Regions from separate parts of the Homo sapiens genome. Here regions 1, 2, 3, 4 and 6 are each linked to region 5. The links come from fine-mapping of genetic effects on gene expression. A gene starts in region 5. Each other region holds a variant in brackets. All regions are shown on one strand. Distances are from middle to middle.

Region 1 (4,000 bases), 140 kb after region 5:
AATAAGACTCAAAATTTGACTCTTAATAAGATATCTACCAGTCAAAGTACAGAATTCTTGATGGTCGGCTGCTTAGTTAAAATTTTGTTTAAGCTTTTCCTATAAAATTAGATTTAATCTGTGATTTTTTTTATCCAATGTTGGTTTAAAGTAATTAAGAATGATAATAATGATTTTTAAAACCCTGCAATTTCCTAAATGTACCATAATTAAATAAGTGTTGTGAGCATGAACTAAAAGAATTACACAGGTAATGTATTTGCATGTTTTACATTTAAGAGTACATTTTCCTTTACAAAACCCTTTTTTGGGTCCCTCTCATTTAATTTAATATTTTTCTTAAATGCATTTCTAATGATTTCAGGAATATATCCACCCCCACCTCTTGTGTTTCTAATGGATTCTTTTTACCCATTTACTCAACTTTTGTTTTCTTTCAAAATTTTAGAGTTTGATAGTTTTAATCCATTTCTTTATTCTTGAAATGGCAAAACCTCCTGGTGCTCATTTACTTCAACAGATTAGGATGAGGCTGGCTTAATTACTGAAGTGTCTAAATAATATTTTGCATGTATGGTTTTTCTTCTTATGCATATTTAACAGTAACAATTATGCTAAAAAAGCATTTTGACAGAAAGACTGGCTTTAATGATGTTTTGTAGTTGGTATGTTAATTTTCAGTACGTAAATGGATGTTTTAATCATTGTAAGGGTACTAATTTTTTATGTTACTATTTTATTTAGAAAACTTTACGGATGGTGAAAAGCAAATTAGTCCTCTTAAAAATTACCACAGATTCTGAGTTCTAATTAAATCTGATTTTATTACAACTTTCTTAAATAAAAGAAAAATTAATAATACAATTGAAGGACTAAGTAAATATGGCATTAAAAAGCCTACGACGATAAGCTTGATTATTTGTTAGCTACCCAAGAGCAGAATAAGAGAAAACCCTTCACTTTTCTCCACTATTCTACGTCCCTCACTGACACCCAGGAAACCTTAGATACCAGGTAGTTAGTCCCATCAGTACATTCCCCAAATGGGAGCTGCATAACCCCATGCATTCCTAGAACTGGGTGGCTGCCTGTGGTAAACTTTCATTCTCTAAGTGGAAATGAGCAGGCAGCTTCATAGGTAGTCAAGCAGAAAGATTCTCAAAGCTATAATTGGTTAGAAATAACCAACCTGAAGATCAGTAATTTCCTTGTAGAAAGGAAAAAGTTATTATTTTAATATTTTCCAAACAGCACATATTTTAGAAGACAAAAATAATGATGTAAATATCTTGTTTCTGTTGCCTGACGTAAAATTTCAGCACCAATTATTTAATTTTATATTTATGCATTCCAATTATTTCAGAAAGAATTAACTAATTATGGATTTTTTCCTAATTATGAAATTTTAATATATAATAGATATGATAAAGTTTTCTTCATTTCAATAAATTTTCTTCATTGAGAAAGGATAACCAAATAAAACAGCAGAAAGAGAAAATTAACTGATGAAACTAAAAATAATAAAATTAAGAAAAATGTATGAAAAGAATAATAAATCCAAAAGCCAATATTTTTAAATGCTAATAAAATAAATCACTTGTGAGTCAGAGTTAAGACAAAAAATAGAGAGCATGCTAAACTATACAAGCTTAGAAATAAGAAAGGAATTATAAACAGAATATAGAAGAGATAAAAAGAACTGTAGGACATTACTACCTTTAGTAATAATAAAACAAGTTGAAACTGATTTCCTAGAAAAATACAAATTACTGAAATAACCTACAAAGTACTTCTAAGTAGTAGTAGTGAAACTTGGATATACCAAGTACTCTAAAAGAGAGTGGAAAAATAATTGAAGATTTACCAGGTCCAGTTTCACAGCTAAATTCTTTCTAACCTTTAAAGAACTGATACTT[A/C]CAATATTACTTAAACTATTCTAAACAACTCATAAAGTTCTCAATTTATATTATAAATATAGTATAACCTTAAAACAAGTAGAAAAAGAACCATATACAAATCTCATTTATACACACAGATTTTAAATTCTTCTTTTATTGATCCACAATAGATGTATTTTCAGAGTACATAGGATAAATTAGTACATTTAAATAATTTGTAGAGATCAAATCAGTGTACTTGAGGTATCATCACCTTAAATATTTGTCTTTTCTTTATGCTAGAAACAAAATTATTCTCTTTTGGCTATTTTGAAATGTATAATAGATCATACATATATGTTACCTAGTGTTGAACAATAGGTAATATTTCCAAACACTATACTTGTACCCGTTAACCAACTTCTCTTCATTCTCCCTTCCTCCCTATCCTTCTTAGCCTCTGGTAACCACCAATTTACTTTCTATCTTCATAAGATCCACATTTTCAGCTCCCACATATGAGTGAGAACATGCAATATTTGTCTTTCTGTGCTTCGCTTATTTCACTTAACATAATGACCTCTAGCAGTTTCATCCATTTGCTACAACTGACAGGATTTTATTTTTTATTTTTTATTTTTTCTGGCTGAATAATATTCCATTGTGTATATATACCACATTTCTTAATCCATTCGTCCACTGATAAGCACTTAAGTTGATTCTACATTTTGACTATTGAAAATAATGCTGCAATAAACACAGGAGTGCAGGTATCTCTTTTATATATTGATTCCTTTCTTTTGGATATATACCCAGTAGTGGAATTGCTGGACCATATCATAGTTTTAGTTTTAGTTTTTTGAGGAAACTTTATACTGTTCTCCATAGGTGCTATACTAATTTACATTCCCACCAACAGTGTATGAGGGTTCCCCTTCGTCCAAATCCTTGCCAGCATCCATTATTACCTGTCTTTTTAAATAAAAGTCATTTTAACTGGAATGTGATGATATCTGATTGCGGTTTTGATTTGCGTTTCTCTGATGATTAGTGATACTGAATTTTTTTTCATATACCTGTTGGCCATCTGTATGTCTTCTTTTGAGAAATGTCTATTCAGATCTTTTGGCCATTATTAAATCAAATTATTTTTTTTTACTATTGAGTTTTTTGAGCTCCTTATATATTTTGGTTATTAATTCCTTGTCATATGGATAGTTTGCAAATATTTTCTTGCATTCTGTGGGTCATCTTTTCACTTTGTTGATTCTTTTCTTTGCTGTGCAGAAGCTTTTCAGCTTGATATGATCCCACTTACCTATTTTTCCTTTGATTGCCTGTATTTTTGAGAACTTACACAAAAAAATCTTTGCTCAGACTAAAGTCATGGAGTATTTCCCTAATGTCTTCTTTTAGTAGTTTCATAGTTTCCTGTCTTAGATTTAAGTCTTCAATCAATTTTTATTTGATTTTTGTTTGGTGAGAGATAGGAGTCTAGTTTTATTCTTCTACACGTAATTACCAGTTTTCCCAGCACCATTTATTGAAGAGGCTGTCCTTTCCCTATTGTATATTCTTGAAAATACATTATTTTCAATATATCTAATTTTAGTCATTCTAGTGGGTGTGAAGTGGTATCTCATTGTGGTTATCGAAGATTAATTGGCTGTAAATGCATTGGTTTATATCTGGGTTCTCTATTCTGTTCCATTGGTCTATGTGTCTGTTTTTATGCCAGTCCCATGTTGATTTGGTTACTATAGCTTTGTAGTATATTTTGAAGTCAGGTAGTATACTGTCTCCATCTTTGTTCTTTCTACTTAGGATTTCTTTGGCTATTCAGGGTCTTCTGTGTTTGCATATAAATTTTAGAATAGTTTTTTTTCTATTTCTTTGAAGAATGTCATTGGCATTTTGATAGGGATCACACTGAATCTGTAAATCGCTGTGAGTAGTATTGTCATTTTAATAATATTAACTCTTCCAATACATGAGAATGGAATATCTTTCCATTTTTTTATCCTCTTCAATTTCTTTCATCAGAGATATATAGTTTTCCTTGTATATATCTTTCACTTCTTTGGTTAAATTGATTCTTAGGTATTTCATATTCTCTGTAGTTA
Region 2 (4,000 bases), 63 kb after region 5:
TGCTGGCATGCAGACCCGTCATCACAAGCTACCGGAAGACAGAGGGGCTTGCAGCAGAGTGTCAGCCAGCTCTGCACTGAGCACGTGCCACTGACAGTTTTTCCCTGGCCAAATATTCCCGAGGAAGGAAGCAGTGCGTTCGCTTATGTTCTGGCACAAATGCCTCTGTCTTCTCACAGTTGACCTTCTTGACTGTCTTGGTCCCCACGACAGCACGTTCTCTTTTGCCTCACTCCTTTTCTCTGAGTACCCCATGCTTGCTCTTCCCCTTCCTGCCCTGTAGCTGTCAGGGTGAAAGGACTCAGTCCTGGGCCCTTTCTCTGCCTGCCTTGGACATGATCTCTCTTAATCCAATAGTTGATGACTTCCAAATACAGATCTTCAGCCCAGACCCAGCTCCTGACTCATTTATCCAATTGCCTCCTTGATATTATTTCCATGACGATGTCTAAGAAGCATCCTCACATGCAGAGCACTCAATGCGCTTCTTGAGTCCGCCCTTCCCCAGTGCCCATGCCCTCCCTGGCTCAGGCCACTCTGCCCTCTGCCTGGTGCTCTTCCCAGCTTTTTTCCTGGTTGGTCCCTTTTCACCATAGGGTCCCCTCCCCAGTCGTTATCTCAGAGATGCTTTCCCTTGCTGCCCCAGCTCACAGGTGAGTGAGAGCAGAGACGCTGCTCCTCCTGAAGCCTGATGAAGTACCCAGGATTCAGACGGGCATGTTTGCCCTTTAAATCCTGACCAGACCGGCCCTGGCCCCAGCAGCTTGAGGCTTTTTTCCATGCCTCCAGGAACTTCTGAATGCATCTTACAAATGTTGAGAACTGGTCATTGTGGAGGCTGGGGCCTTTGAATGTCAACTACACTTGTGTGGGTGGATGCAGACAGCAGCATGAAGTGCAGGAGGGAAGTCAGGCCCAGCACTGCTAGCCAGCCAGCCAGGGCATGGCTAGCCCCAGGCCTGGGGTGCCACCTGCCAGTCCTGTGAGGAATTTGGGAGAGACAGCAGCGGGCTCCGACAGGCCATTAGCTCCACAAGGAAATGGCCACGAATCAGAGTGCTGCTAATGGCTTGTTTCTTTTTAAACAATTTTTTTGAGGCCGTGTCGGAGAGAATAGGCTGCCATTTGCAGCTTTGAACAGGAATGCTGTCCATTGCTCTGTTAGAAGCCATGGGGTATTTACAAACTGGGTGACTGTTGGCAAGACATTTTTCCCCTTTGCTCCTTGGTTTCCTCCCTTCCGTGATGGGGATAATAAAGCCTGTCTGTCTGACTCACAGGGCCGTTGGGGTGTGTTCCAGGTGTTGGTATGTCAGCTAGCACGAATTCGCCGCCCGCTCTGTGCCAAGCCCTGAGTTATACAGCTTCCTACTCCATCCTCACCACGGTCCCGCGAAGGTGGGCATCACTCAAGGCTGCAGTCAGGCTTAGAGGAGCTCAGTGCACCCGTCCCTGGGCCGCCCACGGGTATGGGTGGAGATGTCTCAGCCCACCTGTACCGCGTCCCTGCGGGCGGGCAGAGCTCTGGGTACAGATGCATTTGTTTTCCAGATTCTCACAGTCATCCTTTAAGACAAGCTGTTCTCATTGTTCAGATGATGGCATGGAGGCCTAGTGGAGTTAAGTGACTTGCTCAAAGCCATTTAGCCTGTAAGTGATTGGTCCTGGATTTGAAGGCAAGTCTGCCTGGAAGTCCTTTGGAAGACTTGAAAAGGAGAATTGGTAAAGCCAGGGGTTCCTATACCTTTCAGGCCTTAAGAAAGTAATAGTAGGTGTTTTTTTTTTTCTCTCTGTTCCTTATTTCATGAAGGAAATTATACATTTGCCCAAATGGCGCTTCCCTTAATATTTGCTGAACCTTAATGTTTGCTTTTGATTGGCATTATGCCATCCTAGCACAATAATATTTGTCATCTCATACCTTAGGAAACTCTGCCTGATTTTGAATGATACAAAAAA[G/C]GTTTTGGGGTCTAAATGGAGTGAGAGGAATGGTAAGAGATTAAGTATCCCTCATAAAAACAGGATGGTGTCAGTAAGACCTTTCCCAACTCTGAGTTCACATTCTACCACCTCGGTCACTTAGGTGTAAATGTCATCTTCCTCCTCAAGATGATGACAGGCCACCCACTACCCTGGGACAAAACAGGGCAGACAGTATACAGCATAGGTCCCTCTGCTAGAGGAACATTGGTATTCAGTGCTCTTCTGCTTCCAAGAACCCCTCACTCCATGCTACTCTCCGAGAATATTGTAATGGACATCTGCCTTTGATATAGCCCTGATACCCAACCCCACTCCGTCACTGTGTTTGAAAAGTACTCTTCCTGCTGTACAAATTGGAAGGCTAGGCTGTGGGCATATGGGCCGGGGCTTGGCTAGTCACACATGCATGGAAGCTGGTGATGCAGAATGCTGGGGGGTGGCGAGTTCATCTGGAGACTGTGCCAGCAGCCACATCTAGTTTTTGGGGGTGGTCATGGTGGCTCGGCACCTCCTGCTCCAGTGCCCATGTCCAGTGCTGACGGTGGTGATGCAGGCTCTGGCATCCTCACACTGGGAGTGTGAGTTGGGCTCCAGTTATGGCAGCACAGCATAATGTCCTGCCCATTTTCTGAGCCTGGTTCTTTGGCTTTTCTGGGAATCAGTGAGATGCCAAAGGCCTTTAAGTAAACTCGATTTAAATCAGCTGAAGTCTGCTTCATCTGCTTAAAGCTAAGAAGCCGACTTTTATAGAGATGTTCCTCTGTAGTTATCCAAACATTTGTATTCATTCTTCTGGCCCCTGAAAGTTCTACTTCACCTGTTAGGCACCTCCGTGAGCTACAGAATTAACAGGAGAATCCCAGGTTGAGTGGGTGGCAGGACTGTGGGCTCAGCCGTCTCCCTTCATTATTACTGTGACCCGGGTCTCCATCATGCCCCCTAGACGGTGACCTCTGTGGGGACACAACTGAGTCCTTCATCTCTATCCTCAGCTCCTTGAGTAATGCTTGGCACACGGTGGGTGCTTGGGAAGGTTTGGATGAATGGGCCAAGGAACCAACAAAGAGATGAGAGAAGTTGATGCCTGTGGGCTCTCTGCAGCCTTAATGAGGCTGGCCTGGCTTGGGCAGGAAGGGGGCTACGTGCCTGGAGACTGCAGGCTGCCTGCAGTTCCATGCTGGAGATGGGCTGGGGAGATCATGGAACTTAGAGCAGGAAAGCAAGTAGCTAGAGCCACGAAAGGGAGAGCCGCTCCTCTGAGTGGAGGCGGCGTAGTTGGTGCTTCCCAATCCTTTCACCTCATGGCATGTACAGAACACAGTATTATTTGTCTGGTACCCAGGGCTTTGTCCAGCTGGCGCTGGAGCGGAGGCCCCTCTCACAGCACACCGGTGACCCAGTGCCCACTACTTAGAGCGCTGATCCCAAGAGAACTTAGAGCCTGGTGTGGCCTCTGTTCTTAGCCCTTTGTCATGTAAGTTGCAGATATTTTTCCTAGTTGTGTATTTGCCTTTAAGTGATTTATTTTTTCTTCTATTTGGTTTATTCTCTACTATCACAGTTGTTCTCTCTACAGGAGGTTCCAGCCTTGGCAAGAGGAGTGTGGCCCTTCCTGGAATCCCTCTGGACACACCCTCCTAGCATCCTCTAGGAAAGATGCGGCAGCTCAAAGGGAAGCCCAAGAAGGAGACCTCCAAGGACAAGAAGGAGCGGAAGCAAGCCATGCAGGAGGCCCGGCAGCAGATCACTACAGTGGTGCTGCCCACGCTGGCCGTGGTCGTGCTCTTGATCGTGGTGTTTGTGTACGTGGCCACGCGCCCCACCATCACCGAGTGAGCCCCGCAGCCGGCTGCGGACCCCATCGGCAGGGAGAGGAGGCGCGGGAGGGGGACGCAAACAAAAAATGGCTTTCATATTCAGAGATGTTCATGTTGCTGAGCTGTAAGCAGGAGCACCCTGTCTTCTCTGGTCTTTGACTTGATTAAAGTATCTCCGCTTTCTTGGGAGGGAATAGGGG
Region 3 (4,000 bases), 46 kb after region 5:
TTCCTTCACCTTCCGCGTTTGTTTCTTTTCTAATCCCAAACCTGTATCCTTCATTTTTAAATCAGTGATTTTTGATTGCAGGGAACAGCCATGGTCTCATGGCGGCTTAAGTTAGCAGCGAGTTTGTTGTAGAAATCCCAGGAATACAGGAAGCAAAGCTTGACTGCCTGCTGGGCACAGGAGTGGGAAGGCCCCTCTAACTCCATGCAGGGGCTGCTTGGTCCTGTCCATCACGCACATGCACACATGTGCCAGTGTATCTGTCTGTCTGCCCTTCTGGAGCAGGGCGGTGACAAGTGTCTATCCCTAAGCCAGTTGGGAGAGGGGAACCGTGTGACTGCCCTCTCAGCATGGGCTGAGGGGGTTCCAAAAAAGGAGTCTGTGGAGGGATACCTCCCCAGCAGCTATTATACCCTTTCTTCTAATTTCTCAACAGGAATAACTCAAGTCACCTGTACTGGAAATCAGTTTGCTGAAATTAATCAACGATTCTTGAAGTTGAAGAAAAGGTAAACATTCTCTTATAAGGGAAACTCATTGTCTGGGGAGAGGTTACTGTCCCAGTCATTTCTCTCATATGCCTAGTTTTGTGTGTAATATTTTACCCCTTCTCTCTGCCTGGCCAAGTTCCTCTTCATCCCTCAAGATCTTTATCAAATGCCACCTTTGTCCTTTGTGGAGGATCTCCTCCAGGCTGCGGGTGATTTCTCCTGCTGTTGAACCCCCACGACACTTTCTCCTTCCTGTGATGTTTGTGTTCTCGTTTGCCCTTCCCCTGATGGTCTCACCCTTCCTCTCTTGGCCAGTCGGGTAGAGGTCTGTGACACACCCCCCATCATAGTACTTACTTCCACGCTTTATTCTCGTTGCCTGTTTTTGTGTTTTCCCCAGTAAGCTGCTTAAGGGTGCATCTGAGTTGTGCCTGGGACACAGTCGGTATTCCATAAATGTTTCTCGAATGACTCATGAAGGAGCCTCTCCACAAGAGGCCTGCTCCTGTGTGGACCCACATTGTACCCCCACCACGCCTCCCTTACTGGGCCTGTACTAGGAATCATTCTTAAATACATTATGATCTTTGAGCATTCATCCGAAATTCCTGATCTTCGCCAGGTGTCCTTTGGCTATTGGTGAAATGAAGCTAATAGCAAAGCTTTTGTATCTGATACTTTTTTTTCACATTTGATTTTGGACCCATGTTAAGAGCAGGAATCCAGAAGTGGGGAGGGAGGTGACAGGCAGAGCTGGATGCCAGTGGTCACTGGAGCACAGCTCCCCAGCCCCCTTCTCCGCTTGTGGCGGGTGTGAGTGGGGGTTGCATGTGGGGGGCTTTAGGTCTCGCTGTGGTTGTAGCCCCTCCTATCTGCTGCACAGGTGGATCACCTTCTCCATCTGTGCCATGCTCTCGACTGCTTCACTCAGTGACTTTGTGTCTTAACCCACCTCCCTGCCCCCAACCTTTGTCCTTTAAATGAATAAGTCAGCAGGTTCCTTTTCTCAAACTGTTTACTGTAACTGCTAAAGATCCCATAAAAGTTTCTTATTAATTTTATGAGTTTATGCATCATAGCCAGAGGGACAAAGCATAGATTGTGGGTGTTCCCAGAGATACAAATTTCCAGAGATTGTTTTGCGTATTCATCTGCACATTGTTGTCTGGGTTTGACGTGTATTGGGCTTCAGTGTGAGGCTTTTAATATGTATATCCTGTTATCAATTAAGAAATTATCCAAGTGGTTGAATCCTGTGAGACTTCGCAAGTGTGTGCAAATCTAGTATACTTGACTTTTCAACCTCTTCTTTCAATGTAACTTTTATACAAAATAAATAATCAACTGACAGTTCTCAAAAAAAAGAAAATCAGTTTAATTGGTCACCATCATCTTGGAAGACTTGACTCAGCCCTTTCTGCCTAACAGTAACCAGCAACTGTCTCTCACATTTGTAGAGTGCTTTCTCTTTTGCAAGGTGCTTTGACACACGTCGGCAGATTTTCTTCTCCCACCAGTCCTGGGAAGCAGGCAGAGGCAAGTGGTAACTTCTCATTTTCAAAGTTGGGAAATAAGCTCAGAAGTTCAATGTCTTGCATAACATCATGAACTGATGTGAATGGGGTTCAGTTCCCCCCAACCATCTGATCTTGGTACC[C/A]CCCTTTGGAAGCCATGGCAAACTAACAGTGTCACAGAACCGTCTCTACCCTCAGTGTTCCTTTGAGGGAGGGGAGTCTTGACCTTCTGTTGAGAGTCTGACCCTGGTGCTCCCTCCACCCTCAGCCAGGCAGCTTTCTTGAAAAAGCAGATATGTTCCTCCTGAGACCTTCCAGTCAGTCTTGAAAGTTTTGTTTTTGTTAAGGCTAATTTAAATACAAGAAATTTAATTAGCTTACATGAATGCTGCATTGTCTTACTCTGAGTAAACTGGAAGACACTAACAGGTTTGATCAGCTTAATTCAGCTGTATCTGATGATGTTCTTTCGCTTCCTTCTCTTTTAAATCATTGCAAATGGTTTCTATCAGTCAAGGCAGCAGAGCACAGTGCTTTATTGCCATGTGGAATTGTTTAGTTAACTGTGATTTTTAAAAAATTGCTCAACTTTTAATGAAAGTGGATTGTCAGGTGACATTTTGATTTGTCCTTTGATGGGGAAATGGGAAAATAGAACCATCATAATAAAAAACCAGCTTCTATTCTAGAAGGGGGGCTATTAAAAGCAGGATGTGATTTCAGTGAATTGTTGTTTTCCTAAAACAGGCCACCATCTCTGGTCTTTTTATGTTGAGAGACCTTCCTCTGATACTCTCTTAGATTAACATTTTCCTGTGGGAAATTCTAACCTGGAATCCCCCAAACAGGTTACTCCCCATAGTGTAAGCGTTGGGGCCCAGGACCAGATACCAACACCCTTTTACTGGGAATCTGAAGCATCAGTATCGAGAAATCTGCAAGCCTATCGTGATGCTTGTAATCAAAGGAAACAGGCTTCACATTTTACTTTTAGTTGTGGCATGATGCAAGCACCATTTTACTGTTAAGGTTATTGTTTTCTTAACCCCAAAGCTGGATCTGCATTAGTGAGGATCCTCATAGAGGCTACCCTCATGTGTCCTGGCTGAGTGGGGTTCCAGGTGCTCCTCAGTGGTTGTGCCCACCTTGAATTGGCACAGTGGCAGGACCTCCGACACCATGAGAGGATAGACAGGGGTCACCTCTGAGGCTGGCCCCAGGACTCCTCTGTGTTCTATAGCATTCTTACACCCTTTATGGCAGTTAGCAAACTTGGTATCTCATGGGCACCTCAAGCTTACTGTGTCCAGATTTTAACTCTTGGTCTACTTCTACCATAGTCCCTTTCTAGGCCTCCTCCCTTCCCCCATCTTATTAAGGTACGTAGTTGTTAACTCACTTTGTCAGGCCAGAAACTGGTACTTCATTTGTTAATACTCATCTTTTTCTTCCCCCAAATCACCAAATCCTAATGATGCCTCTCCTAAAGTACATCTTGAATTCATCCATGGCCTTCCTGTATCCGCCCCCCAAGTCCAAGCCAACATCGTCCTTTGCCAGGTGACTGCCAAAGCCTCTTAACTGACTGCCCTGCCTGCTTCCCCTTTTCTTCTATTCCTCTCATCAATTTGGACCCAGAGCAATCTTTAAAAATTCTTGTCAAATCATGTAATTCCCTTGCTTGAAACCTGTTGGTGACCTCATCCTGCACTTGATGAAACACATAAGCCCAGTGCAGCCCATGGAGTGGACTGCACTGTCTGGGCCCCAGGCCTGGCTACAGAGGCACAGCATTGTTGGCACCATGTTGTTGTAGCTTGTGAGACATTCTCCCCTTCACTCTTGACTTCCTAGGAAGATTGCAGTGACTTCAATTTTCCAAACGCAATAAAATAACTCAGGCTCTCAAAGGTGTACTTAGAATGAATATTGTGTTCTGGGAAATGGAACAAGGAGTGATTTGTTCCTCCAAACACCAGAATAACAACTCCTAGA
Region 4 (4,000 bases), 34 kb after region 5:
AAACACTTCTAATACTAAACACTGAAGTAAATGGCAGCTATACCTACATTTAAGAAAAATTAATAAGAACAAGTGAGATCACTATTGACCCAGTTTTTGGTGGATCAGTGAGTGAGGGTGGTCATGTTTACAAAATGAAAATTACCAGGGTCATCTCCTCCTACCGTGCAGTTTAAAAACAATTACGAATATGGCAGCTCACTGAGCACTTTCAGACCACATTGTTAATGTCCTGCATTTGTATGATTATACTTTATGAATTTTTTTTTGACAATAATTTGTATTCATTCATTTATCCATTTTCTAACCTGCTTATTCCAGTGTAGAGTAGCATGTGGTTGGAGCCTCTCCCAGCAGCTCAGGGCACAAGGTGATAAGCACACCCTGCGTAGGACACAGTTTCATCCCAAGGTGCGCTCACATCCACTCCGATGGGGACCATTAGACACATAAGTGCCTAACTCCAACATCTTTGGGATGTTCAAGTTAGGTATTTGTAGAGGATGTAAGAGGAAACCAGAGTACCTGGAGAAAACCCACACAGACATGGAGAGAATGTGCAAACTCCACACAGACAGTGGCCCCAGCTGGGAATTGATTTTTTTTTTCTTTTTATCAACGTTATAATGCAATGATGCTATTTGAGGACCTGCTGTAGTTCCTTGCTGACTTCAGGGGCACAAAGGCTGGCCTGCATCAGTCCCTAGGGCAGCGTCTGGCATGACAGTCAGGGAAAACCTAACTGGGTGTTTGATTAGCTGTGGGAGGTGAAGGAAGGGAGGGGTCTCATTTTTGGCTGAATCGTCTATCCCTGTCAAAATAGTCCTTTCTTCTTCCTGTCTTACCTTTCTAGAAAGCATTTTTTTTTAATTGGACATGTTTATTTCTGTGGGTGGGTCAAAATCTTTTGAGTGGGCTTTTTGTTTTTGTCCCATTTTGAGACGGAGTCTTGCTCTGTCTCTCAGGCTGGAGTGCAGTGGTATAATCTTGGTTCACTGCATCCTCTGCCTCCTGGGTTTAAGTGATTCTCCTGCCTCAGTCTCCGCAGTAGCTGGGTATACAGGTGCCTGCCACCATACCTGGCTAATTTTTGTATTTTTAGTAGAGATGGGGTTTCACCATGTTGGCCAGGCTAGTCTTTAACTCCTGACCTCAAGTGATCCGCCCACCTCAGCATCCCAAAGTGCTTGGATTACAGGCATGAGCCACTGCAGTGGCCTGTTTTTGTCTTTTAATCTGTGGATCCCCAGTGTGCTGCTCTAACTAGATGAAGAGCTGCTGGCTTACATCTGTTGGGCAGGCCCTTAGTCCTTGTGGGCTGAGCAGTGTGGTAGTGAAGGAGTCCTGAGCCGCAGATCAAGAGGTGGAGGACCTGACTACACCACTTCTTTGCAATTCAGCCATGAGACAGCTTCCTGTTCCATAAAACTGTGGTGGGGTGCAGTGGGGTTGGGGGTGGGTGGTAACAGCATACAAGCCTACATCTGGGCTGCTTTCGACA[A/G]TTGGGAGATTGTGTAAAAGGTCCCTGGCATGGCAGTGTTGGCTGTTCAGGAAAAGTGACTGTTTTTTAAAAATCTCTTCTTTCTTGGATCTCCTTGTGCTTGGCAGTGTGCCTTTCCACTTAGATCCAGGCCTTGGTTGGTCAAGGGCAGTTTTTTCATCAGCAGAGTGACTGTAGCCCTAAGGCCAAAGCCATTCAAATTCCTTCTTAGGTTCACACATTGGTGATTGTTGAAACCTTGACATTTGAGCTTGGAGAGCTTTCTGGCCTAGGCTAGTGCAGTGACAACTGTAGGTCCCACTTTGGCCCTGCGGTCATAACTAGGGTGATACTAATTGCAGCTTTCATTTGTTGAGCATCTGCCCTTCACCAGACCTGTACTCAGAGTCCATGATGCTCACACCAACCTTGTCAAGTAGGTGGTGGACTCCCCATTTTATGCAAGAGGAAACTGTAGTCCAGAGAGTTTGAGAAACTTGACGCGGTCTCCTGTTTGGAGTTCTCTATAGGACCTCCTTCTCTTTTAGTTATAACTAGTCTTTTAATTGCTTTTTTAGTTTTATTCCAATAGGTTTTTGGGGAAGAGGTAGTGTTTGATTATATGAATAAGTTCTCTGATGGTGATTTCTGAGATTTTGGTGCACTGATCACCTGAGCAGTGTACACTATACTCAGTGTGTATCCTTTTATCCCTCACTCTGCTCCCATCCTTTCCCCACCAAGTCCCCAAAGTCCACTCTTATGCATCATTCTTATGCCTTTGCACCCATAGCTTAGCTCCCAATTATGAGTGAGAACATAGGATGTTTGGTTTTCCATTCCTGAGTTACTTCACTTAGAATAATGATCTCCAGTTCCGTCCAGGTTGCTGTAAATGCCATTATTTCATTCTTTATTATGACGCAGTAGTCTTTCGTGGTATATGTATAGCACAGTTTCTTTATCCACTCGTTGATTGATGGGCATTTGGGCTGGTTCCATATTTTTACAAATGCGAATTGTGCTGCTGTAAACATGCATGTGCAAGTATCTTTCTCATATAATGACTTCTTTTCCTCTGGGTAGATACTGGGATTGTGGGGTTGCTGGATAAAATGGTGGTCCTACTTTTAGTTCTTTAAGGAATCTCCACACTGTTTTCCATAGTGGTTGTACCAGTTTGCATTCCCATAATTGCTTTGACTTAGAAAATGATGGCTGTTTGTAAGCCCCTTGTGAGCAACTTTTTTTTTTTTTTTCCATTTTTGAGTCAGGGTCTCATTCTGTTGCTTAGCTAAAGTACAGCAGTGCAATCATAGCTCACTGCAGCCTTGAGCTTCTGGGTGCAAGCGATCCTCCTGCTTTGGCCTCCCGAGTATCTGAGACTATAGGCATATGCAACCATGCCCAGCTAACTTTTTTTTTTTTTGGTAGAGACAGGGTTTCACCATGTTGCCCAGGCTGGTCTCAAACTCCTGGGCTGAAGTAAATTGCCTACCTCCGCCTCCCAGAGTGTTGGGATTACAGGCATGGGCCACTGCACCTGGCCGTGAGCAATTTTTAATAGTTGTCTCTTGTCTCTTCTATATGGCCTCTGTTCTTAATTGGTATAACCCAGTTTTACCTAGATGAGGTCATTGCTCAGTGGGTCTGCTCGTCCAGGCTCTGCAGAGGTCTACTTTGCTCTGGAAGTGTTTCCTGCTCCTTCTTTTCCCACCTCCAGTGGTGGAGTGTGTGCTGATTGGATAGAGTCCATGCTCTGGAAATAGGAACCAATTTTCTCTCCTCACTACTTCTTTTTATTTCTAACTGCTTCTGTTCATCTTTTCTTGGCTGCATTCATTTTCCCTCTTTACTGCTGTAGTTTATTGCTCTTTGCTGACTCCTTTATTTTTATTTTCCAGACTTGCCTGAAATGCATCTTGATTCTGGCATCTTTAGATGTTTAAAGCCCTGCACTTTGTTACTAATGATTTCCCTCATTTTGCAGAATTCCATTCAGTTGCAGTTCTATTTGGCAAGACCCTGCTTTTCTTCTTTCTTAAATCATTACATTTTAATATTCTTCTCTTCCTGCTCTTTTATAGAAATTTGTATTTCATTTTTTAGGTTGTAATAATGGACCTTCAACGCCCTACAGTTTGACTTCTTATCATACTTACTTGTTTTCAGAATCATATGTTCATGGAGCAGAGGCACTTTTATGCTGTCCTTGCTTTTTCTAAAAGGCAAATCTGTCCATACCATTTTCGTACTCAGCACCCTTCATAGGCTCTTGAAGATCAGCTCTGAATGCCCCATCCCAGTGTTGGAGACCAGTGGTGTCCCCCTCCCTTCACCTGCCCGCTACGACACTAGCTCAGCAGTTCTCCACAATTGGTTTCAGGACCCCTTTATGTAACTCTTAAAAATTAGTGAGATTCCCCTAAGAGCTTTTGTTTGTATAGATTGTATCTAGTAATATTTACTGTGTTAGAAATTAAAATTAAAGAAATTTAAAAATATTTATAAACTTGTTTA
Region 5 (4,000 bases):
TCATATTTGTTCATGTCCCAGTAGCTAAAGGAAGTCACAAGGCCAACTCCAGGGTCAACGTGGGAGGGAGCTACAGAAGGACAACTCAGTAGGGGTGATTCATTAGAAGCCATTAGTGTAAAATGTGTAAACTTTTCCTCTGAGACTTGCATTGCAAGATACACAACTCTAACCTATAAAGGATGACACTTTCTTTTTCTTTTCTCTCTCTCTCTCTTTTTTTTTTTTTTTTTTTTTGAGACAGAGTTTCACTCTTGTTGCCCAGGCTGGAGTGCAGTGGCATGATCTCAGCTCACTACAACCTCCGCCTTCTGGGTTCAGGTGATTCTCCTGCCTCAGGCCTCCCAAGTAGCTGGGATTATAGGTGCCTGCCACCACGCCCAGCTAGTTTTTGTATTTTCAGTAGAGACGGGGTTCATCGTGTTGGCCAGGTTGATCCCGAACTCCTGACCTCAGGTGATCCACCCACCTCGGCCTCCCAAAGTGCAGGGATTACAGGGGTAAGCCACCACGCCCAGCCAAGGATGGCACTTTCACAGACACAATATCTATGTTATTACTACTATAAGGGAGCATGTGGAGTCACCTTATTAAGGGACTGAGTCCTACATCAGTGGCTCTGCTTGCCTCATAAAATTATTCATTAATTTTTAGCAGTGGCCTTGGGAAGTTGTGTACATAATATTTAGAGGAAAATGGCATTTACAATGATAATGAATTAAAGCAATTCACACGGCAGTACCACTGCCCCAATTTAAACCTTGAGGCTTGCTAATTTCATATTTAGCTGCATCCCATATGCTCCCAATCCCTCTGCCCTAGTGTGGAGCTACAGCTCAAACTCCTTTGAAGGTAGGAAACTTACCTCACACACGCGTGTTCCCCTCATTCTTTCAGCGCATAGAACACTAAAAAGATGCTCCTTAAATACATGCTAAATAAACTGATCAATAGTTGCCTTTTATTAAATATCTTTGTGTTTCAGGTATTTCCTTATTTCCTTCACAGACCGGATCATGAATGATCTCCCAATGTGACAAGGTCTTATTCTCCACAGTTTACCGTTGAGGGGACTGAGGTGCAGAAAGCCCAAGGTGTATGCAGCCCAATCCCCTCTGATCCCACTCTACTGCATTGCTGCCTTTTGTACGCAGCAGGAAGGACACTTCCTGTAAAAATGAAAAAAAAAGCCTTAAGTTGTTTGAGAGAGGGTCAGGAAGAAAACAGGAAGAGCCAGTAGACTGCAGGTGCTTTCAAAGGGCTCCCTGTCTTTGACATCCCTAAAATAAAAACTTGTTAATTAAGAGATTGGCCACAGAAATCCAGGTGGAAAACCTGCAGAAGAGTGGGTTCCACAATTCTTCAAAACAGAACAAAAAAACCCCAAGACTTGTTATATTTTTACCGGTGGAGGGGAAGAGGTTACAGGAGTGGCCTTGCTCCCCGGGCTGGCCTTGCTGAGCAGGTGACAATACCACACATATAAAGGTTTTAAGGTGAAAAGGTAGTCAATATTTTACATTTCGAAGATAGTTTTTAAAATCACCTACTGCATCAGTAGTAATACAACAATAACTACCATTTACATACCACCGCACACATCGGGGCTGCGTAAAGAACTTTATAGTGCACCATCTCAATTAATTCTCACAACTCTGTGAAGTAGGTTTTATTATTCTTAATTTATAGACGTGTTCACTGTGGGCCAGGGAGATGAGCTTTCCCGCGATTGCCCAGCTTTTAAGAGGTAGATCTCAAACCTAAACGTGTTTGACCAAAAGCCCTGAATAACATTTAGCCGTGGGCCTCTTGCGGATTTGGCGCTGGTCCGAGGTGGGGAATTGTGAATCTCATTTATTTATGCTGAGCTGCGCACACATATGCACGTGTAAGTTACAAAAAACAAATCCAGGTCAGGATCTCTGTCCGCTTGAGGTTTCAAAGCCTACTTGGGTAGACAGCGGTAAAAGTCTCAACTCATTCATCTACTCGTTTGCTCTCTTCACAAGTATTTATTGCGCACTTCAGTATTCCAGACAGGGCGCTAACCTTGCCCTGGAGGAGAGAATGGTGAACACAACAGACATGGCGTTTGCCTCCAACTATCCCCTTTCCGATTCTGCTATCTCACGGGCGAGGCGTTCAAAGAAGCAGGAAATATATCAACAAGGGGGTGACTTAAGCACCCGCTGCGCGGGAGCCGGAGGAAGCGCGCTGAGCCTGCAGAGGTGGTCAGGGCGAACTTCCTGGAGGCAGCGGCAGCAGCAGGCCGGGCGAGAACCCAGGTCGCTCGGAAGCGACAGTCTGAGCCGGGAACGGGGAAGAGGGGGCGGGAGCCGAGGCCCGGGCGGGGGCAGCCAGCGAGTTAGGGTTAGGACGGGAGGATTCGGCTTCCCGGCGGCAGAGGGCGCCTGGCGCTGCGGTCTGGCGCGCCAGAGTCGCCCGCGCGGGCGCCGAGAGGAGAGGCGAGGCGGGGAGCGCAAGCGGCGGCGGCCACTGCCACGTATTCCCGGCAGTGGTGGCGGCGGCGGCGGCGGCGCCCGCGGGCAGGTGGGCTGGGAGCGGCGCGGCGGCGGCGGCGGCGGGGCGGGCGAGCCGGCGGGCGGGCGCGGGGCACGGGGCACCGGGCACCGGGCGGGGGTGCGGCGCCGGGACAGTACGGTTCCCGCCACGCCGGCTCCGCCTCCGCGCAGTGCTGCTGACCCAGGCCTGGGCGCCCGGCGGGTCCCGAGCGCAACTCGTGCGGGCGGGGTTGGGGGCCCGAGGGACTCGAGCTCGCCTGCCCGTCGCGGCTCGAGACGCTGCATCCCGGTTGCTGCGGGGCGGGGGCTGGGAAAAGTTGGGGCGGACCGCGAGCCCGCGGGGCCGGGCGGGAAGTGCGGGTGCGGGGCGGACTCAGGGGCCGGGGGACGCAGTGCAAAGGGCTTGGGCCGGGGCGGCCGGGAGGGCCCCGTATGGGAAGGTGGGAAACGCGGGTCCTTTGAGGACGCCGAGAAAGGGGTGCGCTCAGGGTCTCTGGGAGTGGACAAGAGTCCGGCGGCGGACCTTGCGGGTGAGAAGGGTCGGCGCCTGGGGGTCGGGGAGTAGAGGTGAGGCGGGGGCGGGATAGAGCCTTCCTCCTCCCCCGTTCTTTCGGGACCGACCCTGAGACCCGGGGCAGGCTCCGAGCTGGGTACGCCTCTGGCATCTGAAGACCCAGTGGGGAGTTCCTGTACGGGGTGGGTGGAGGAGGGAGCTGAGCGTTGCTTCCTCTGCTGCTGGGGCCGACTACCGCCCCTCCCCAGCGGCCAGATTCACCTCAGACTGCAGTGCTTTTGCCCTGAGGAAGTTGAGGAGGGACAGCTGAGCGGATGAGATGTTTGGGGTGTTCCAAGATGAGTGGGATTAGGCTGCATGATATCATAACTATCTCCGGGAGCTGTCAGAAAACACTCCCATGTCCTCATACACCCACCCATCCACTCATCCAGTCAGTACTGCCAAGCTCCAGGCTCCCTTGCTCTTTAAGTGACACCTCTAGATCCCCAGAGCCCAACAGCGCATCTGCTCACAGCCTCGAGGGTGGCAAGGGTGGAAGACATGGCCTGCTAGTGTCTGCGTAGGTTGGTGCTTTCAGAAACAAGTGGTTCTGGAGGTGCTGGATGCTTTATTAGAACAACCTGTGTGGAGCCCGTTGACAATGCAGATGACTCATGTTGGCTTTTTTTTTTTCCCCTTTACAAATAAACTTTGTATTCAAGACACCAGTATGCCTGGTCATTTGCAGCAGTGATACGGCAAGAGACCCATAGTGGGCTTCTTGAGCCCTTATTCTCGTCCTAGATGTGTTAGCAAGAAGTTTGACCTTGGATGAGTCACTTGCTCTCTCTGGACTTCTGTTTTCTTATCTGTCACATGGGGTATAAAGAGAGAGCTCGACAGTGTGATGTAGACAGGAGTAGGTTTCTGAGGGACACAGTGAAATCTTTTTTCTTGTAAGGCTGGATCAGCCACAGAAAAT
Region 6 (4,000 bases), 21 kb after region 5:
GGATGTGGGCCGCCCAGCCCAGGGAAGCATCTGTCTTTGTGGAACTGGAGTTATGTTTTATGATGTCACTCTGGTGTGACTGGATCACAGAATTCTGAGTTTATACCCTTTGTTGGATTTTTTTCCTGTTTCACTATTTTTCTGTGGGTCCTTGCCCAAGACCTTGGATGAGTGCAGTGAGCAGGCGAGATCTGTGAGTTAACATAGGTGGGGAACGCATTGGATGCACCACCTCCTCTGTGTGCACTGGCTGTTGACCCACCATTCCTCATCATCAGTACTCCGTGCCTTCCCTGCATTTTGGAGGACTAAGCACTTTTGTAGCGGGGAGTGTGTGTTTTGCCTTTCTCTTCAGTTTGTCCCCATAAGCTACTTCCAGGGGCCTGGCAGTAATGCTGCTGCTCCAGGTCATTTGTGTTTGTGGAGTGTCAGAGTTTTCAGGACTTTGCCCAGAAAGTCTTGTCCAGTGCTCCCAGGGAGTGGTCGTCATCATCTCCATTTTACAGATGGGGATTCTTAAGGGAAGTCACTCTTAGGTAGCATACTTCTATACCATAGCTTCCCCTGTAAGTTTCATAAAACACAACCGAGAAGATGCCTGTTTAAAATCAGCTTGTATTCCGAAAGTGAAAGAATGCCCTCTTCAAATGCCCTGGGGATCGTGTACACAGTAGGGTTCTCTTCTCCCTCAGGAATGTGTGGTCCCATCCTAGGTTCCCTCCCGGCCGTTTCCTGGCTTTGTGAGCCTGAGCTGGTTACTGAACCTTTCTGAGTCTGTGTCCTATAAATTGGTGATGATAGTACAATCTAAAAGAGGCTGTGGTAAGATATATATGAGATAGTGTATGTGAGATCACCCAGGCTCAATGTGTTGTAATCGCTTGTTTTTATTTTTCAACCAGGATGGCTTGAAGAAAATACAGATCTCAGCTACAGAGGTTGAGGCCTGAGAAACTCCCCTCCCCTGAAGGGCATTAGTAACTGATCTTCCCTGCACACTTCCTCCCCCAAAACAAGAAGGAGAGGATGAAGCTTAAAAACCCTGTTTCAGCTAGAATCTTTCCAAGGTTTTCTCATTCTTTTGGTTTTGGAATGGGGTGCTGATATATGCTTCATTTACTGGAAACCAAAACTAAGGAAGTCCATGTTAACCACACAGCCTCTCAGAAATGCCCAGTATTTTTAAAAATGAGGAAATGCCAAAACACGATTTTAGAAAGCGGGGTATTTTAAATTTACATATTGGACGTGTCAGCACTTTTAGCACACACACTTTCACTGATTGTATAATTATCTTGAAAAGACTTAAAAAACTAAATTTGAGGTTTTCTGGTCTCATTTCTTGCGGGGTCTTGCTCTGTTGCCCAGGCTAGAGTGCGGTGGCATGATCTCAGCTCACTGCAACCTCTGCCTCCCAGGCTCAGGCGATTCTCCTGTCTCTGCCTCCGGAATAGCTGGGACTACAGGCATGTGCCACCATGTCCAGCTAATTTTTTATATTCTTGGTAGAGATAGGGTTTTGCCATGTTACCCAGGCTGGTCTTGAACTCCTGAGCTCAAGCAATCCACCTGCCTTGGCCTCCCAGAGTGCTGGGATTACAGGCGTGAGCCACTATGCCCGGCGTGGTCTCACCTCTTCAAAGACCTAATCAGCGTCTAGTGGGTAAGTCTTTTTGTTTTTTTTGAGACAGGGTCTCACTCTGTAACCCAGGCTGGAGTGCAGTGGCGTGATCACAGCTCATCTCCTGAGCTCAGGAAATTCTCCTGAGTAGCTGGGACAGGCAATCCTCCTACCTCGGCCCTCCCAAAGTGCTGGGATTACAGGCATGAGCCACCGTGCTTGGCCAGCTCTTACATTTTTGGTCACCTAGTGACAGACCTTTTTTCCCTTCTCCTCTCTCTCCTTTCCACATTAGTTTTTATGTTTGAGCCTAGACAAGTATAGGGGAAATTCCAGAGGAACCAGCAAAGTGACCTGCAATTTTTGATCTTT[G/T]GGGTTTCCAATTTTGTGTATTTGCTGTGTGATCTTGAGCAATTCTCTTACTTCAGGTCTCAAGGAACTTAGCATCTCGTAGGGGAGATAGAACTGGAGTTGATAGCCCTCTTATTGCTGTGGCTACAGACAAGGATTCTTGTCCTCAGTGTGGTGGTAGTGGTTTTTAAGTCTTTATGTGTTATAAATTAGAAGTTTGCAAGGTGTGGTTTTTGACACTAAGGGAATTGCAAATGGGATCAAGGACTAGACTTCCCTGCATGAGACACTCTCTCATCAGACACTCTCTCATCAGACTCCCAGACTTATGTTATACCACCTGGTGCGGTCAGTTACAGTTACCTGTTTACCTGGCCACCTGCCTAGATTAACAGCAAGCTCTACAATGGCGGAGACTTGGCCTATGCCCTGTTATATCTTAGGCATCTTATTTATTGTACTTCCATGTGGAATACAACGGATGCCTGCATAAAAGATTTGAAGGATTTCGAATCACTTAACATGGTAGCAGGCCGAGGGGTGGAATTGGCTACCACAGGTCTTGTGTTGCGTAAACTGGTCGTGCCACATGACCAGACTTGTCTCCCTTCCTCCCATGCCCACAGCCCCTCTGCTGAGAAAGACAGAACCAGTACCAGGTAGGTCCCTTGTAAAAAGCCAGAGGGGTGAGTGGAATTATCTTCTGTTTTATAGACCAAGATCTGGAGAAGTCACATAGCTAACATGCCAGAGAGTCAGCATTTGAATGTGGGCCTGCAGGAGTCCACTTTTTATACCCTTCACAGATCGGATATGCTGGTGCATCTGCCCCTGAGGACATATTCAGCGATACAAATCCAATTAACCCGATAGCCCAAGAAACTTAAACTAGTCTGAGGAAGAACTTCCTGACATTTTGTTTTTGTTTTGTTTTAAAGTTTGTGCCAAAAAGGGGCTAGAGTTGGGGCTTTTCAAACTGTTAATCACAATCCACAGTCAGAGAATTGATTTAGTGGGTTGATACATTTTTAAATGAAATAGAACAGTGAAAAATAACAATGTGTGACACACAGTAAGGCTGTGTGTAGGTGCATCCCTCCCAGGCCATAATAGAAATACACTTCTGACTGTGGATCAATGATCAAAATATCTGAGAGAGATTATAGCTTCGATTGGTATTGGCTAGATTGCGAAGTCCTTGGCGGCAGGGATGTTCTCTCTTTTATGTTCCCTTCATCCTTAGTCCAGTACTGAGTACTTAGCTGATTGGTTGGTCTGTCTGGGAGAATTTGTAACAGTTCACCCCTCAGACTGGAAGAATAGTCAGAATGATGTTAAGGACAATTTGCAGAATACTGTCTCTGCAAGGAAATGACAGGTATTCTTACCCTTGCTTTATGAATGAGGAAAGCAGAAAGACACCGAGTGTGATAGTTAAGAGCTTGGGGTCTAAAGTCTGAGAAACCTGTGTTTGAATTCTGTTTGTGCAGTGTCATGGTTGTGTGACTTTGGGTAACTTTTTTAAGCCTGACTTTGTCCATCTTTAGGCAGGGTATGATGAGGGTACCTACCTCAGGTATTATGACAGTTAGATGAGTTAGCTCGAGTTTAGTGGCTTTAGCACAGTGCCTGGCATCTGATAAGCAGTTAGTAAGCATTATCTGCTGCCCTTCGTTTTATGATTAAGAGAGATTAAGTGACTCATGTTGGGTCCCAGGGCACCAGCTGGAGCCAGGCCCACTGCAGGAGCCCCTTCTAGAGTTGCAGATCTGTGATGGTTATTGATCTTGATCTAAACTTGTAGCTCTAATCTGTGGTTTGGCTGTGGCAGTGAAAGGAAGTGAATGTTGCAACAGAGCAGGTGTGTGCATACAAAGAGATGTCCTGGTTTTGCCAGTTAGAGAAAACAGCATCTTCCAGAGATATGGCTGCATGTGGAATCTGAGAATATAAATGACATTTCTTAGGAAAGCCAGGTGCTTTGTATTTTCATCAAAAACAACAGTTTCCTAAAACTGAATATAGCAA

Which allele goes with the higher level. Alleles are on the strand shown, and positions count from the first base shown. SD is a standard deviation of normalised expression in the study named. Not every link is listed here.
With allele C in place of A in region 1, the expression in testis of the gene that starts at base 2,435 in region 5 is lower (small effect, 0.18 SD a copy in GTEx).

Evidence for each region. PIP is the estimated chance that this variant, and not a neighbour inherited with it, causes the effect. A credible set is the group of variants that fine-mapping cannot tell apart.
Region 1: its variant is the best candidate, but not a certain one, in a credible set for the expression of SMCO4 in testis (GTEx, PIP 0.65).
Region 2: its variant is the best candidate, but not a certain one, in a credible set for the expression of SMCO4 in whole blood (INTERVAL, PIP 0.80).
Region 3: its variant is the best candidate, but not a certain one, in a credible set for the expression of SMCO4 in whole blood (TOPMed, PIP 0.81).
Region 4: its variant is the best candidate, but not a certain one, in a credible set for the expression of SMCO4 in whole blood (INTERVAL, PIP 0.80).
Region 6: its variant is the best candidate, but not a certain one, in a credible set for the expression of SMCO4 in monocytes after LPS (Quach 2016, PIP 0.89).

What each region holds. Positions count from the first base shown.
Region 1 is chr11:93,401,195-93,405,194 of GRCh38, reverse strand. The region is part of intron 11 of DEUP1 (deuterosome assembly protein 1); the gene reads right to left. Among named protein-coding and RNA genes, the nearest start is that of DEUP1, 72 kb to the right of the region's middle. The variant A/C (reference allele first, on the strand shown) is at 1,917.
Region 2 is chr11:93,478,829-93,482,828 of GRCh38, reverse strand. It overlaps SMCO4 (single-pass membrane protein with coiled-coil domains 4), which reads left to right. Exons shown (of 3, transcript NM_020179.3): 3 at 3,560-4,000. The coding sequence starts at 3,640. The coding sequence ends at 3,819. Among named protein-coding and RNA genes, the nearest start is that of SMCO4, 63 kb to the left of the region's middle. The variant G/C (reference allele first, on the strand shown) is at 1,960.
Region 3 is chr11:93,495,785-93,499,784 of GRCh38, reverse strand. SMCO4 (single-pass membrane protein with coiled-coil domains 4) reads left to right here. Exons shown (of 3, transcript NM_020179.3): 2 at 437-509. Among named protein-coding and RNA genes, the nearest start is that of SMCO4, 46 kb to the left of the region's middle. The variant C/A (reference allele first, on the strand shown) is at 2,149.
Region 4 is chr11:93,508,037-93,512,036 of GRCh38, reverse strand. The region is part of intron 1 of SMCO4 (single-pass membrane protein with coiled-coil domains 4); the gene reads left to right. Among named protein-coding and RNA genes, the nearest start is that of SMCO4, 33 kb to the left of the region's middle. The variant A/G (reference allele first, on the strand shown) is at 1,502.
Region 5 is chr11:93,541,826-93,545,825 of GRCh38, reverse strand. SMCO4 (single-pass membrane protein with coiled-coil domains 4) reads left to right here and starts at 2,435. Exons shown (of 3, transcript NM_020179.3): 1 at 2,435-2,550. RefSeq lists silencers at 2,235-2,364, 2,525-2,574, 2,705-2,944.
Region 6 is chr11:93,521,000-93,524,999 of GRCh38, reverse strand. The region is part of intron 1 of SMCO4 (single-pass membrane protein with coiled-coil domains 4); the gene reads left to right. Among named protein-coding and RNA genes, the nearest start is that of SMCO4, 20 kb to the left of the region's middle. RefSeq lists an enhancer at 801-900. The variant G/T (reference allele first, on the strand shown) is at 1,994.